Homo sapiens: one gene and its partners. The protein of the gene in region 1 purifies or fractionates together with the protein of each later gene. This does not show direct contact. Each region holds a gene or a part of one and is shown in the gene's direction. Other genes may lie near its edges.

What was found.
Region 2: the proteins of KLHL4 (region 1) and MIA3 purify together in Homo sapiens (affinity purification with mass spectrometry, with the first as the bait; one large-scale study listed by BioGRID). This does not show direct contact.
Region 3: the proteins of KLHL4 (region 1) and ARIH1 purify together in Homo sapiens (affinity purification with mass spectrometry, with the first as the bait; one large-scale study listed by BioGRID). This does not show direct contact.
Region 4: the proteins of KLHL4 (region 1) and RPS6KA3 purify together in Homo sapiens (affinity purification with mass spectrometry, with the first as the bait; one large-scale study listed by BioGRID). This does not show direct contact.

Annotation. Positions count from the first base shown.
Region 1 is NC_000023.11:87,667,787-87,670,556, forward strand, and holds the end of KLHL4 (kelch-like protein 4), read left to right. Parts: 3' UTR 1-1,542; coding exon of another isoform or gene 1,543-1,608; 3' UTR 1,609-2,264; downstream 2,265-2,770.
Region 2 is NC_000001.11:222,628,097-222,631,617, forward strand, and holds part of MIA3 (transport and Golgi organization protein 1 homolog isoform 1 precursor), read left to right. Parts: coding exon 1-2,293; intron 2,294-3,521.
Region 3 is NC_000015.10:72,575,330-72,578,850, forward strand, and holds part of ARIH1 (E3 ubiquitin-protein ligase ARIH1), read left to right. Parts: intron 1-3,521. UniProt on the Homo sapiens protein: E3 ubiquitin-protein ligase, which catalyzes ubiquitination of target proteins together with ubiquitin-conjugating enzyme E2 UBE2L3.
Region 4 is NC_000023.11:20,165,889-20,169,409, reverse strand, and holds part of RPS6KA3 (ribosomal protein S6 kinase alpha-3), read left to right. Parts: coding exon 1-8; intron 9-1,662; coding exon 1,663-1,821; intron 1,822-3,521. UniProt on the Homo sapiens protein: Serine/threonine-protein kinase that acts downstream of ERK (MAPK1/ERK2 and MAPK3/ERK1) signaling and mediates mitogenic and stress-induced activation of the transcription factors CREB1, ETV1/ER81 and NR4A1/NUR77, regulates translation through RPS6 and EIF4B phosphorylation, and mediates cellular proliferation, survival, and differentiation by modulating mTOR signaling and repressing pro-apoptotic function of BAD and DAPK1.

The DNA of each region.
Region 1 (2,770 bases):
TTTTATTGTGGATTGTGAAATCAAAATCTGGAGAAATGCTTATAAAATATACTACTAGCTTTTAAGTTTTAAGAAAGAAGAACGTAAGTTGTACAAAGATATTTGTACTTTGACAAACTGAATTTAAATAAACTTTATTTCCTCTCACTATAGTGTGGCTTTAGAATATATCAAGTACAACCTGAATGGACTTTTTGATTTTACATTTCCTATATCACTAAAATACTTAAACACAAAAATAAAATTCCACTCCTTTATTTCTTCTTACACCTGCCATTGTCTCTAATTCTAAAGAGAGAGCTATAGATTTCTGCAGTTCTAGAGGTGAAGATAGAGACATAGAGAGGCTGTGAAACACACATACAGCCCTGTTAGGTCTTTTGAATTCACACCTTATTGAAATCAGTGTAGAAGTAGAGTTACCTAAACCTTTATCGCCAATGCACAGCTTGGCCTGTTAAGTTAAATGTGGGTGTCAACCAGTGGAAAAGATCAAAGGACCTTTTGCAGCCTAGCTTGCCAATCTTCCAGTAACAACGAGGTGCTACCAATAGGCAGACTGTGTCTAGAGTCATGCATGGACAAGAGGAAAGTGAAAGTTGAATACTCTCTTCTCAATGGCATAGCTGGACTTGATTAAGTATTGACTCATAGAAGAGACATGTATGTTTCCCGGGGCTACCCCTTCATAGCTGCATTTAAAAATGGTGTTCAGGCCACTATGGCTGCTGTGGTTTGAATATTTTTTTCCCTCGAAAACTCATGTTGAAACTTAACTCCTAATGTAGCAGTACTGAGAGGCAGGGCCCTTAAGAGGTGATTGGGCCATGAGGTCTGTGCCCTCCTGAATGGATTAATCCATTCATGGATTAATGGATTATTATGAGTGGGGGACTGGTGACTTTATATGAAAAGGAAGGAAGAGTGACCTAAGCTAGCATGCTCAGGGTGCACCGTATGTCCCCTGGTCATGTGATGCTATGTGTTACCTTGGGACTTACCTGACAGCTCTTACCAACAAGAAGGCCATCCCAGATATGGCCTCTCAACCTCAGACTTCTCAGCCTGCCTAACTGTAAGAAATTAATTCTTTTTCTTTATAAATTACCCAGGTTCTGTTTTAAGCCTCAGAAAATGAACTAAGACAATGCCCTAGATGAGCTGCCAAAATCTGAGCAGATATGAGCCATCAGAATAGAGACCTGCAGAGGCCCAGGGCACTCAAACATAACTGTGCTTGTCTCAGTCAAACTTAATTGGGAAAAGGAGGAGTAAGAGCAGGCCCTTTCTGACATGCTTTAGCAGAGATAACTTATCAGGGCTAGTTTAAACAAATGTGTATAGGAAAGGATGTTATTTATATATTCTTACAAGAGTGTAAGGGCTCACACATTTACTGTACTCAGATCTGAAAGACAATGTTGCTTCTTGATTTTTTTCTATAATCACTATGACCGTGTTCACGATTCCCTACTCTGCAACTCTCAGCATGCATCATGATGATTCTCTAACACTGTCTGTCACCTTCCTGTATTTCCACAGAGCATGCAAGAACTTCTACAAAACTTCTATACCACACAGAAGCTGAAAGAGACTCTGGGGCACTAAATTCAGATCCTTTCTCCACACAGCAATGACATTTATCAATCTGACTCAGGTGTGGCTGTTGCCCCTTTTTGATATGGAGGGAACACTGAAAGACAGTTTCCTTCTGGAGTTCCAAATGCAATATAGAAAAAAAAACCCTGTGACTCTGGATTTTATTTTAAGTTCTCTAACAAGACTCCTACCTTGAGATCTTAGTCTAGGTAAAGAAAAAAAAAAAAAGGTCATGAAACACAAATGTCCTCAACTGTCATCATTCTATGTTTACTTTCTCCCAATCACATCACCTGAGGTAGAAGAGATTTTTCAGTTGCTATTTCTCTTCGTAATGAATTTTCTTTACATCCTGTCCACACTGCTGGAGATACTAAGTCCCAACCTAAATGATGGAAGGAGCATCTCCCCTCTTGTCTGTGGAAGATATCACATGAACTACCTAATTTTCAAGCATGGATCTCCATATTTCAAAGGAAAGTTTTAAAAATGTTTTTAAAACTTCAAATATCTCACCACAGTGAATTATGGGTAAGGTGATAATATGTTTAATTAGCTTGATTTAATCATCCCACACTGTATACATATGCCAAAATATCATTTTGTATGCCATAATATATATGATTTATGAATTATAGTAATATTAATAAAAGTGTTAAAGCTTTTTCTCTCTTGACAATGCTTGCTTTTTAAGATTATGGCCTGCTACAGACTAGGAAAAAGTCCTGCTCATGGTGCTAAGTGTTTAATATTGACACTATCTTTTTTTCTCTCATAATCCTAATCCCCTCCCTTAACACACACACACAGAAACACACACACACACACACACACAGAGCACATGTAAACAATGAGGGAAATGGGTACATATAGCTAAATATGGGGAAGGTTATAAATGGGTAAATATTAAAAAATAAAAGCACATTAGTATTTTTCAGATATTAGCCCCTTGACATAAACATCTATTAAAGATCTACTGTGTTTAGGACCCTAGTGATATACACTAATTAAAACTAAGTTTATGAAATTTGTACCAAATCCAAGCCTATAAAATTTGGATTATATTTTAAGTGATGGAGAATCAGAATTAAATGGCCTCGCCTACACAAAAGCCACCTGAGTTTGCCAAATTTACATTTCATCTAAGGCCATGGAGACCTTCCTTTAAATA
Region 2 (3,521 bases), on another chromosome or scaffold:
ACCAGACTCGTTACTTCATTAGAAGATGATTTTGATGAGGAATTGGATACTGAGTATTATGCAGTTGGAAAGGAAGATGAGGAGAACCAAGAAGACTTTGATGAGTTGCCATTACTTACCTTTACAGATGGGGAAGATATGAAAACTCCAGCAAAGTCTGGCGTTGAGAAATATCCAACAGATAAAGAGCAGAATTCAAATGAAGAGGACAAGGTTCAGCTAACTGTGCCCCCTGGCATCAAAAATGATGATAAAAATATACTAACAACCTGGGGGGACACTATCTTCTCTATTGTCACAGGAGGTGAAGAAACAAGAGATACGATGGATTTAGAGAGCTCTAGTTCAGAGGAAGAAAAAGAAGATGATGATGATGCATTAGTCCCAGATAGCAAACAGGGGAAACCACAGTCAGCAACAGATTATAGTGACCCTGACAATGTAGATGATGGTCTTTTTATTGTAGACATTCCTAAAACAAATAATGACAAAGAAGTAAACGCAGAACATCACATTAAAGGAAAAGGGAGGGGAGTTCAGGAATCCAAGAGGGGCCTGGTACAAGATAAGACAGAATTAGAGGATGAAAATCAAGAAGGCATGACTGTGCACAGTTCTGTTCACAGCAATAACCTCAACTCTATGCCAGCTGCTGAAAAGGGTAAAGACACATTAAAATCAGCTTATGATGATACAGAAAATGACCTAAAAGGAGCAGCTATTCATATCTCAAAAGGAATGCTCCACGAAGAAAAGCCTGGAGAGCAGATTTTGGAAGGTGGCTCAGAGAGTGAATCTGCACAGAAAGCTGCAGGGAATCAAATGAATGACAGAAAGATTCAACAGGAATCCCTGGGTAGTGCACCACTCATGGGAGATGACCACCCTAACGCATCCAGAGACAGTGTGGAGGGAGACGCTTTGGTAAATGGGGCCAAACTGCACACGCTTTCAGTGGAGCATCAACGTGAGGAATTGAAAGAGGAATTAGTTCTTAAAACTCAAAACCAACCTAGATTCTCCTCTCCAGATGAGATTGATTTGCCCAGAGAACTGGAAGACGAGGTTCCCATTCTGGGAAGAAATCTTCCCTGGCAACAAGAAAGAGATGTGGCTGCCACAGCCAGTAAGCAAATGAGTGAGAAGATAAGGCTCTCTGAGGGAGAAGCCAAAGAGGACTCCTTGGATGAAGAGTTTTTTCATCACAAGGCAATGCAGGGCACAGAGGTAGGACAGACAGACCAAACTGACAGCACAGGAGGACCAGCTTTCCTTTCTAAAGTAGAAGAGGATGATTATCCCTCTGAAGAACTACTAGAGGATGAAAACGCTATAAATGCAAAACGGTCTAAAGAAAAAAACCCTGGGAATCAGGGCAGGCAGTTTGATGTTAATCTGCAAGTCCCTGACAGAGCAGTTTTAGGGACCATTCATCCAGATCCAGAAATTGAAGAAAGCAAGCAAGAAACTAGTATGATTTTGGATAGCGAAAAAACAAGTGAGACTGCTGCCAAAGGGGTCAACACAGGAGGCAGGGAACCAAATACAATGGTGGAAAAAGAACGCCCTCTGGCAGATAAGAAAGCACAGAGACCATTTGAACGAAGTGACTTTTCTGACAGCATAAAAATTCAGACTCCAGAATTAGGTGAAGTGTTTCAGAATAAAGATTCTGATTATCTGAAGAACGACAACCCTGAGGAACATCTGAAGACCTCAGGGCTTGCAGGGGAGCCTGAGGGAGAACTCTCAAAAGAGGACCATGAGAACACAGAGAAGTACATGGGCACAGAAAGCCAGGGGTCTGCTGCTGCAGAACCTGAAGATGACTCGTTCCACTGGACTCCACATACAAGTGTAGAGCCAGGGCATAGTGACAAGAGGGAGGACTTACTTATCATAAGCAGCTTCTTTAAAGAACAACAGTCTTTGCAGCGGTTCCAGAAGTACTTTAATGTCCATGAGCTGGAAGCCTTGCTACAAGAAATGTCATCAAAACTGAAGTCAGCGCAGCAGGAGAGCCTGCCCTATAATATGGAAAAAGTCCTAGATAAGGTCTTCCGTGCTTCTGAGTCACAAATTCTGAGCATAGCAGAAAAAATGCTTGATACTCGTGTGGCTGAAAATAGAGATCTGGGAATGAACGAAAATAACATATTTGAAGAGGCTGCAGTGCTTGATGACATTCAAGACCTCATCTATTTTGTCAGGTACAAGCACTCCACAGCAGAGGAGACAGCCACACTGGTGATGGCACCACCTCTAGAGGAAGGCTTGGGTGGAGCAATGGAAGGTGAGATGCCTATGGCCTTGTAGAACAGGGCTGGAGAAGCAGGTGGGTGGGTCGCTGAGGTGCCTCCTATCTTGTGAAGCTCTGTTCAGTTTCCAATGTGCCTAAAGGAGAGGGACAACACAGGGAGGTCCACATGTTCCTTCCTGCCATCTTTCTTTTAGGCTGGAGCATGGAGAAGAATTTCTTGCCGTTTCCCTTAGAATAGTTGAGACTGGTTAGCATTTTCAAAAGGAAACTTTGTAAAAAGCTAAAGAGAAAGATATAAACCAGAAAGTAATATACAAAATACAAATGTCATGTAAAATTATGAAAGGGTTTTATTGAACACAATTTTTCAGTCGTCAGATAACTGCTCTGTAACCATGGATTGACTGGTATAACTTTTAGATCAATGCCTTGGCTAAATTCCTACGTTCTCCCCAATTTTATCTTTTGTGGATGGCTTGTTCTTCCTGTTTCTTGGGAGCACTTACTCCAGTTAAACCCTCCTGGGCCGTAAGGTTCTTGCATGCAGATTAATCAAGATTGGGACAGGGATGCCTTCGAATGCAGTGCTTGATGCGTGGAAGCCATTCAGTTGAATTAACCCCGAGCCAATATCCTGACATAAGCATTCTGATTCCTAGTTCCTTGTTCTATTCTCTGCATCCAGGCTTTTCTCTTTCTTTTCTTTTCTTTTCTTTCCCTTTGCCCACCTGCCCTTCCTTCCTTCCTTCCTCTTTCTTTTTTTCTTTTCTTTTTTTTTTTCTTAAGACAGGCTCTCACCCTGTCACCCAGGCTGGAGTACAGTGGCATGATCATAACTCATTGCAGCCTCCAACTCCTAGGCCCAAGCGAACCTCCCATCTCAGCCTCCTAAGTGGCTAGGACTACAGGCATGCATCACTGTGCCCAAATAATTTTTATTTATTGTAGAGACAGGGTCTTGGTATGTTGCCCAGGTTGATCTTGAACTCTTGGCCTCAAGTGACCCTCCTACTTTGGCCTCCCAAAGTACTGGGATTACAGGTGTGAGCTACCGCACCTGGTATATCCAGGCTTTTCAGACAGATGTATCTGAATTGAGAGTACCAAGGGGACAGGAAGCCACAGGAAAACGTATTACTCCAGAGTGCTAATTTTTCCTAAGAAATGGGGGAGGAGAACTTTTTTGCATTTAATTAAAACATATATTTTGGATAAGAAGGCAATATTCAGATGAATTTTCAGGGTAAAATATGAGGCTACA
Region 3 (3,521 bases), on another chromosome or scaffold:
GCACTTTGGGATGCTGAGGCGAGAGGATTGAGTGCGGGAGTTTGAGATCAGACTGGGCAACAACTGAGACCCTGTCTCTACAAAAAATTTATTAAAAATTAGCCAGGTATGGTAGTGCACGCTGGCTGAGGTGGGAGGATCACTTGAGCCTGGGAAGACTTCAGTGAGCCATGGTTGTGCCACTGCACTCTAGCTCAAGCAACAGAGCAAGACCCTGTCTCCAAAAAAAAAAAAAAAAAAAAAAAAAGTCTTATTAGCAGTGATGGTATGGGTGTTCTTTTTTCATGTTGAATTTTAGTGAGAAGCAGTTTCAGAATTCTTAGATTAAGTCAAGTCCCATAACATCATACATGTCAATATGGTAAGGGAGGGTTTTCATTTCATTTGGGGAACTTGACAGGCTTGGAAATATTAGTACTTTAGGGGAAGATAAAATGCCAAGCAGATTTTCCACATATTTTCAGATTGGCATAATTTTCCTGTTCATAAGCATTGGTTTGATACTTACCTGACTCTTGAAATAACATGGCTGTGGTTTTGTTGTTTTTTCATTGAGATGAGGGTCTCGCAGTGGCATGATCATAGCTCACTGTAGCCTTGAACTCCTGGGCCCAAGTGGTCCTCCTGCCTCAACCTCTGCATTAGCTGGAACTAGAGGCAGCTTGAGGTGTGCACCACCGCGCCCAACTTGTGTTGGTTTTTTGAAGTGTTTCGTTGTATAATGCTGGATCATGTGGTTAGCTAATTATGTGGCTCAGAATTAGTATTTCTAAGCAAGGGACCAACCATAGGGCCAAGTAGTATCTGTTATGTAGGCTTTAAAACATGGGGAGAGAAAGAGGAGGTAAGGATAAAGGAAAAGAACATACGTGTGTTAGGAACCCCTTTGATAGGGGCCGGGCGCGGTGGCTCATGCCTGTAATCCCAGCACTTTGGGAGGCCGAGGCGGGCGGATCACAAGGTCAGGAGATGGAGACCATCCTGGCTAACACAGTGAAACCCCATCTCTACTAAAAATACAAAAAAATTAGCTGGGCGTGGTGGCGGGCACCTGTAGTCCCACCTACTCCAGAGGCTGAGGCAGGAGAATGGCATGAACCCGGGAGGTGGAGCTTGTGGTGAGCCGAGATTGTGCCACTGCACTCCAGCCTGGGTGACAGAGCAAGACTCTGTCTCAAAAAAAAAAAAAAAAAAAAAAAAACCCTTTGATAGTGGTTGCATTTAGTAAGCATTTATTAATGGTTTTCTGCAAATCAGGTATTGGAAATACTTTATCTTTTTAAAAGTCCATTCCCTCTAGAGATTTATGGTATAATGGTAGAGGCCTCATATGAATAATTATATATTATAATGTAATAATACAAAACAAATCTAAACTAGATACATTGTTGCTTTGATAACAATATACTTTACATATCTCTAAAGACAGACTCTCTTTACATAACTGTAATACCATTACAGTTGACTCTTGAACAATTCAGGGGTTAGGGACACTAACCCGCCCTACCTCCGCAATGGAAAATCCACATACCACTTTTGATTTTCCCAAAACTTACCTGTTTTAATAGCCTACTGATGACCAGAAGCCTTACCGATAACATAGTCAATTAACACATATTTTGTATGTTACATGTTTTATTATACTGTGTGCTTTTTTTTTTTTCTTTTTTTGAGACGGAGTTTGCTCTTGTTACTCAGGCTGGAGTGCCAGTGGCAGGTCTCAGCTCCCTGCAACCTCCACCTCCCGAATTCAAGCGATTCTCCTGCCTCAGCCTCCCAAGTAGTTGGGATTACAGACATGCGCCACCATGCCTGGCTAATTTTTTTGTATTTTTAGTAGAGACGGGATTTCATCATGTTGGTCAGGCTGGTCTTGAACTCCTGACCTCAGGTGATCCACCCACCTCAGCCTCCCATAATGCTGGGATTACAGGCGTGAGCCACTCACTGTGCCTGGCATATACTGTGTTCTTAACAATGAAGTATGCTAGGAAAAAAGTTATTTTAAAAAATTGTGAAGAAGAGAAAATGTGTTTACTTTTTATTAAGTAGAAGTGGATCAGCCGGGCCCAGTGGCTCACGCCTGTAATCTCAGCACTTTGGGAAGCTGAGGTGGGCAGATTGCCTGAGGTTGGGAGTTTGAGACCAGCCTGGCCAACATGGTGAAACCCTATCTCTACTAAAAATACAAAAATTAGCTGGGCGTGGTAGCAGGCGCCTGTAATCCGAGCTACTTGGGAAGATAAGGCAGGAGAATCACTTGAACCCTGGAGGTGGAGGTCGTGGAGAGCCGAGATCGCACCATTGCACTCTAGCCTGTGCGACAGAGTGAGACTCCATCTCAAAACAAAAAACAAACAAACAAAAAAACGGATCATCATAAAGGTCTTCAAGTTGAGTAGGCTGAGGAGGAAAGAAAATACAGGAGGGCTTGGTTTTGCTATATCTCAGGTGGCAGAGGTAGAGGAAGTCGAATGGGATTCAGGAGATGCAGGCACACTTGGTGTAACTTTACAGGAAAACCTTACGAACCGTTTTGCATTTTCATTTCTCTAAAAATGTTTCTGTATAGTAACAATCCTCTTTCCATTTGCTTTAGTTTCAGTGCTGGTATAATAGAAGGGTCCATTCATAAAGGAAGTCCAAAGCAGTCTTAAGTAATCAGAACCCTTCTGCCAAATTGTCTAATGTCAATTTATTTTCTGGCACTGCTTCTTTAGTGTCTTCTTCCTCATCATCTGGCACTGGTTTGGAAGCAGCTCATCTCCATCAAGTGGTCTTTTAATTCCTCTGGTGTGGTGTCTGTTAGCTAACCCTTCACCTTCCACGTTTTCTTTGCCATATCCACAGTCTCTTTCGTGATTTCCTTGATGGGCTCTGTTGTAGATACTGCGAAGTCACGCGCAACATCTGGACACAGTTTTCTCTACCAGGAGTTTATTGTTTCAGTCTTGATGATGCCATGGTTTTTTCTATAACAACGATGACATCTTCAGTGGTGCTCTCCTTCCAGACTTCCATGATGTTCTGTGGGGGTTCTCTTCGATAGCATTGACAGTCCCTTCCAGAGTACCGTGTGCATCTTTACGTTTGTTTACATTTCTCTCAATGTGAATGGTACCATATACGGTCTGTAAGAGTTTGTGTGCATAAGTTTTGATAAATCTCAACTTTTTATTAATAGATTTATGTATATTTTATCGTAGTAAATCATAAGATAGGCTACATATGTCTTATGCATTCATGACAACTCTTTTTCTTAATTTTGGTTTGTCCGCAAGTGTTTTCAAATTGTTGGCAAACCTCCAAAAAATATTTCAATATATTTATTGAAAAAAATCCACATATAAAGTAGACTTACAGTTTAATCCTGTGTTGTTCAAGGGTCAACTGTATATGTTTTAAAGCAATACTCTGTTGGTATCAACTATCTATTGTTCAAATATCCCCAATTATCTTAAATTTTGCTTTTTTTTGTTTTTTGGTGTTTTGTTTTTTTTTTTCAGAGGTAGAGTCTCGTT
Region 4 (3,521 bases), about 68 Mb from region 1:
TAAAGGATGTAAGTAGATTCTTTAATATGGATCATTTGAATCAGTTGTCTAACTCACATTGAAAGTAGTGTATTTTCAAAAATCATGTGGTAGACAAAGAACTCATCATAGGCTGGGCACAGTGGCCCACGCCTGTAATCCCAGCAGTTTGGGAGGCCAAGGCAGGAGGATCACTTGAGGCCAGGAGTTCAAGACCAGCCAGGTCAACACAGTGAGATCTCCATCTCTACAAAAAAAAATTTTTTTTTAATTAGCCAGGCCGAGCACAGTGGCTCACACCTGTAATCCCAGTACTTTGGGAGGCTGAGGCAGGAGGATTGCTTGAGCCCAGGAGTTCAAGACCAGCCTGGGCAACATAGGGAGACCCTGTCTCTAAAGAATATTTAAAAATTAGCCTGACATGGTGGCTCATGCCTATAGTCGCAGCTACTCTGGAGGCTGAGGTGGGAGGATTGCTTCAGCCCGGCAGGTCAAGACCTCAGTGAGCAGTTATCGCACCACTGCACTCCAGCCAGCGCAGCAGAGCAAGACCCTGTCTCAAAAACAAAAACAAAACAAAACAAAATTCAACATGGTAAGTTTAAAAAGTAGATTTGAAAACAATTTATATGTGTATATGGCATAATTTCATTTATCAATAAAGATATGTTTGTACAGTTATTTTTTTCTACTTTTGCTTTAAGAAGAAAAGTACTTACGATATTATTGCTTTTAATATCTGCACTTACTTGAACACTTACCTAAATGTTCAGTGTTAATATTACTATTAGTTCATATTCAATATTGACTAGTCTCACTCTCCAGACTACCCCAAAGTATCTTCCACATTACTAGAAAAGAGATCTAACACTCATAACTACCCATTTAACTTCCCTGCCTACAGTCTAAAGTCCCCAGCCGCTTAAGACCCTGCCTTCCTCTGTAGTTTTCAGACTTCTCACACACCCTTTCTCATACACCTGATGCTCTGTGTTCTAGTATGTAAATTTCTTGCGCATGCCTCATTTTCCATGCTGTTATGTCTGAATTTATAGTTCCCTCAGTTGCCAACACCATCTATTTTCTTTACCTGGCTAACTACCACACATATAAGATTTTGCTAAGGCACTGCTTCTTCCAGGAAGCCTGCCCTGCCCATTGCCACCCCCAGGACAAGTAAAGTATCTTTCCCTGGACTGTCATGATAACCCTGTTGCCTATGTCTCTCTTGACTTTTATTATAACAAAGTGTTGGCAAACAGTGTGAACTCCCCAGGTAGTGTTAAGTCTTCTCTTGCTAATGATGCTCAATAGGCCCAAAGGCCTTATCTGGGGGTTGTCAAAACTCAAATTTCCTCAGATTATCCCTGCTCATGGAGACACAGCAAAAGCTCGTCTCTACAAAAAATGCAAAAATTAGCCAGGTGTGGTGGCATGCGCCTATAGTCCCAGCTACTTGAGAGGCTGAAGTGGGAGGATCGCTGGAGCCCAGGAAGTGGATATTGCAGTGAGCCAAGATTGTGCCAGTGCACTCCTGGGCGACAGAGTCTGTCTCAAAATAAATAAATAAATAAAATTTGTCTTGAATATGAAGTGAGTTTAATTTTTCCTTTATATTTTAAACTTCGTTTTGGGCACATATAGTTTCAAATAATATTTACATTTTGATGTTGAAATTTATAGGTATATGATGATGGAAAGTATGTGTATGTAGTAACAGAACTTATGAAAGGAGGTGAATTGCTGGATAAAATTCTTAGACAAAAATTTTTCTCTGAACGAGAGGCCAGTGCTGTCCTGTTCACTATAACTAAAACCGTTGAATATCTTCACGCACAAGGGGTAAGTCTTTTTACCACTCTATATGTACATACACACACTTTTTTCCTTTATGTTTGAGCTAGAATTAGATAGAAATTACTTTATGCCTGAAATGGAAAATAACTGCTATTAGCTGAATTATCCTACTGACCTTCCTCTATATAAACTTTTATTATTGAGATTGAAGTGTACCTTTGATATCCTAGCTTGTTTATGTTAAACTCTTGTGCTTCCAAGAAAAAGTAAGTGATCTCTTCCGACCTGGAAAACATAGCATTGTTTCTGCTAGGTCACTCTGTACTCATGAAAACCAGGCCCACTTCAGGTTAGAAGCAGAACCAAGGAATCCTGGTTTGTATTCATGTATAAAAGGAAATCCTTAAAACAATGAGGCCAAGGAGTCACATGCTTCGGCTGGTGGATATGCTCTTCGTTCTTCTTGTATGCAGATTTTTAGTAAACAGCAAAAGAAAATTGTATTTCTAGGCTGGGCACGGTAGCTTATGCCTGTAATCCCAGCATTTTGGGAGGCCGAGGCAGGCAGATCACTTGAGGTCAGGAGTTCGAGAAAATCGTATTTTTAAAACAAGGCGGCCGGGTGCAGTGACTCACGCCTGTAATCCCAGCACTTTGGGAGGCCAAGGTGGGTGGATCACCTGAGGTCAGGAGTTTGAGACCAGCCTGGCCAACATGGCGAAACCCTGTCTCTGTTAAAAGTACAAAAATTAGCCGGGCGTCATGGCTCATGCCTGTAATCCCAGCTACTCAGAAGGCTGAGGCAGGAGAATTGCTTGAACCCGAGAGGCGGAGGTTGCAGTGAGTTGAAATTGCACCACTGCACTCCAGCCTGGGCAACAGAGTGAGACTCCATCTCAAAAAAAAAAAAAAAAAAAAAAGAAGGGAAGTCTGGGAGGAAAGGAGAAAATGAGGGGAGGGAGGGAGGAAAGGAGAACAGCAGAGGAGTGAAGCAGAGGAGCAGAAAGCAAGGGGAAAATAAACAATTTTTTAAAAATTTTTTAGTTGACAAATTATGTATATTCATGGTATACAACATGATGTTTTGATACATGCATATATAAAAGATTACTTCTTAAGGAGTTCAGTTTCAATACATTCTTTTTGTTTTGTCTTTGCCCCTGAAAGCCAAGTAGAATGTGTTAATTCTGGAGCTTCCTGACTTCTAACTTATCAAGATTTGCCTAGTATTGTAACTTGAAATTAGTAGAACTCAGTAGTCACTGAGGAACTTATGACCTTGCAGTCATCAAAGTCTTCTGTGTTCTTTTCCCAATGCCTCATCAGTAATTCGTTATTAAAATAGTCTGGAGAAGTGATGTCCTGGATGTGAGGAACTAAATCTAATTTGATTGATTGGAACACAGACTCAGAATTTGGTGACAGAAGGCACACTTAAGTCTAAAAAGGAATGTCAGAGAAGCTTATGATAAAAAAGTACAGTAGTCCCCCACTAATCTGCAAGTTTGCTTTCTGTGGTTTCAGTTACCACAGTCAACCATTGTCAAAAATATTACAGTATTTTGAGAGACCACATTCATATAACTTTTATTACAGTATATTGTTACAAGTGTTCTAATTTATTATTAGTCATTGTTAATCTCTTACTGTGCCTAATTTATAAATTAAACTATATCATAGGTATATATATCTAGGAAAAAATATAGAGAGACTTCGGTATTATCCTCAATTTCAGGAATCCACTG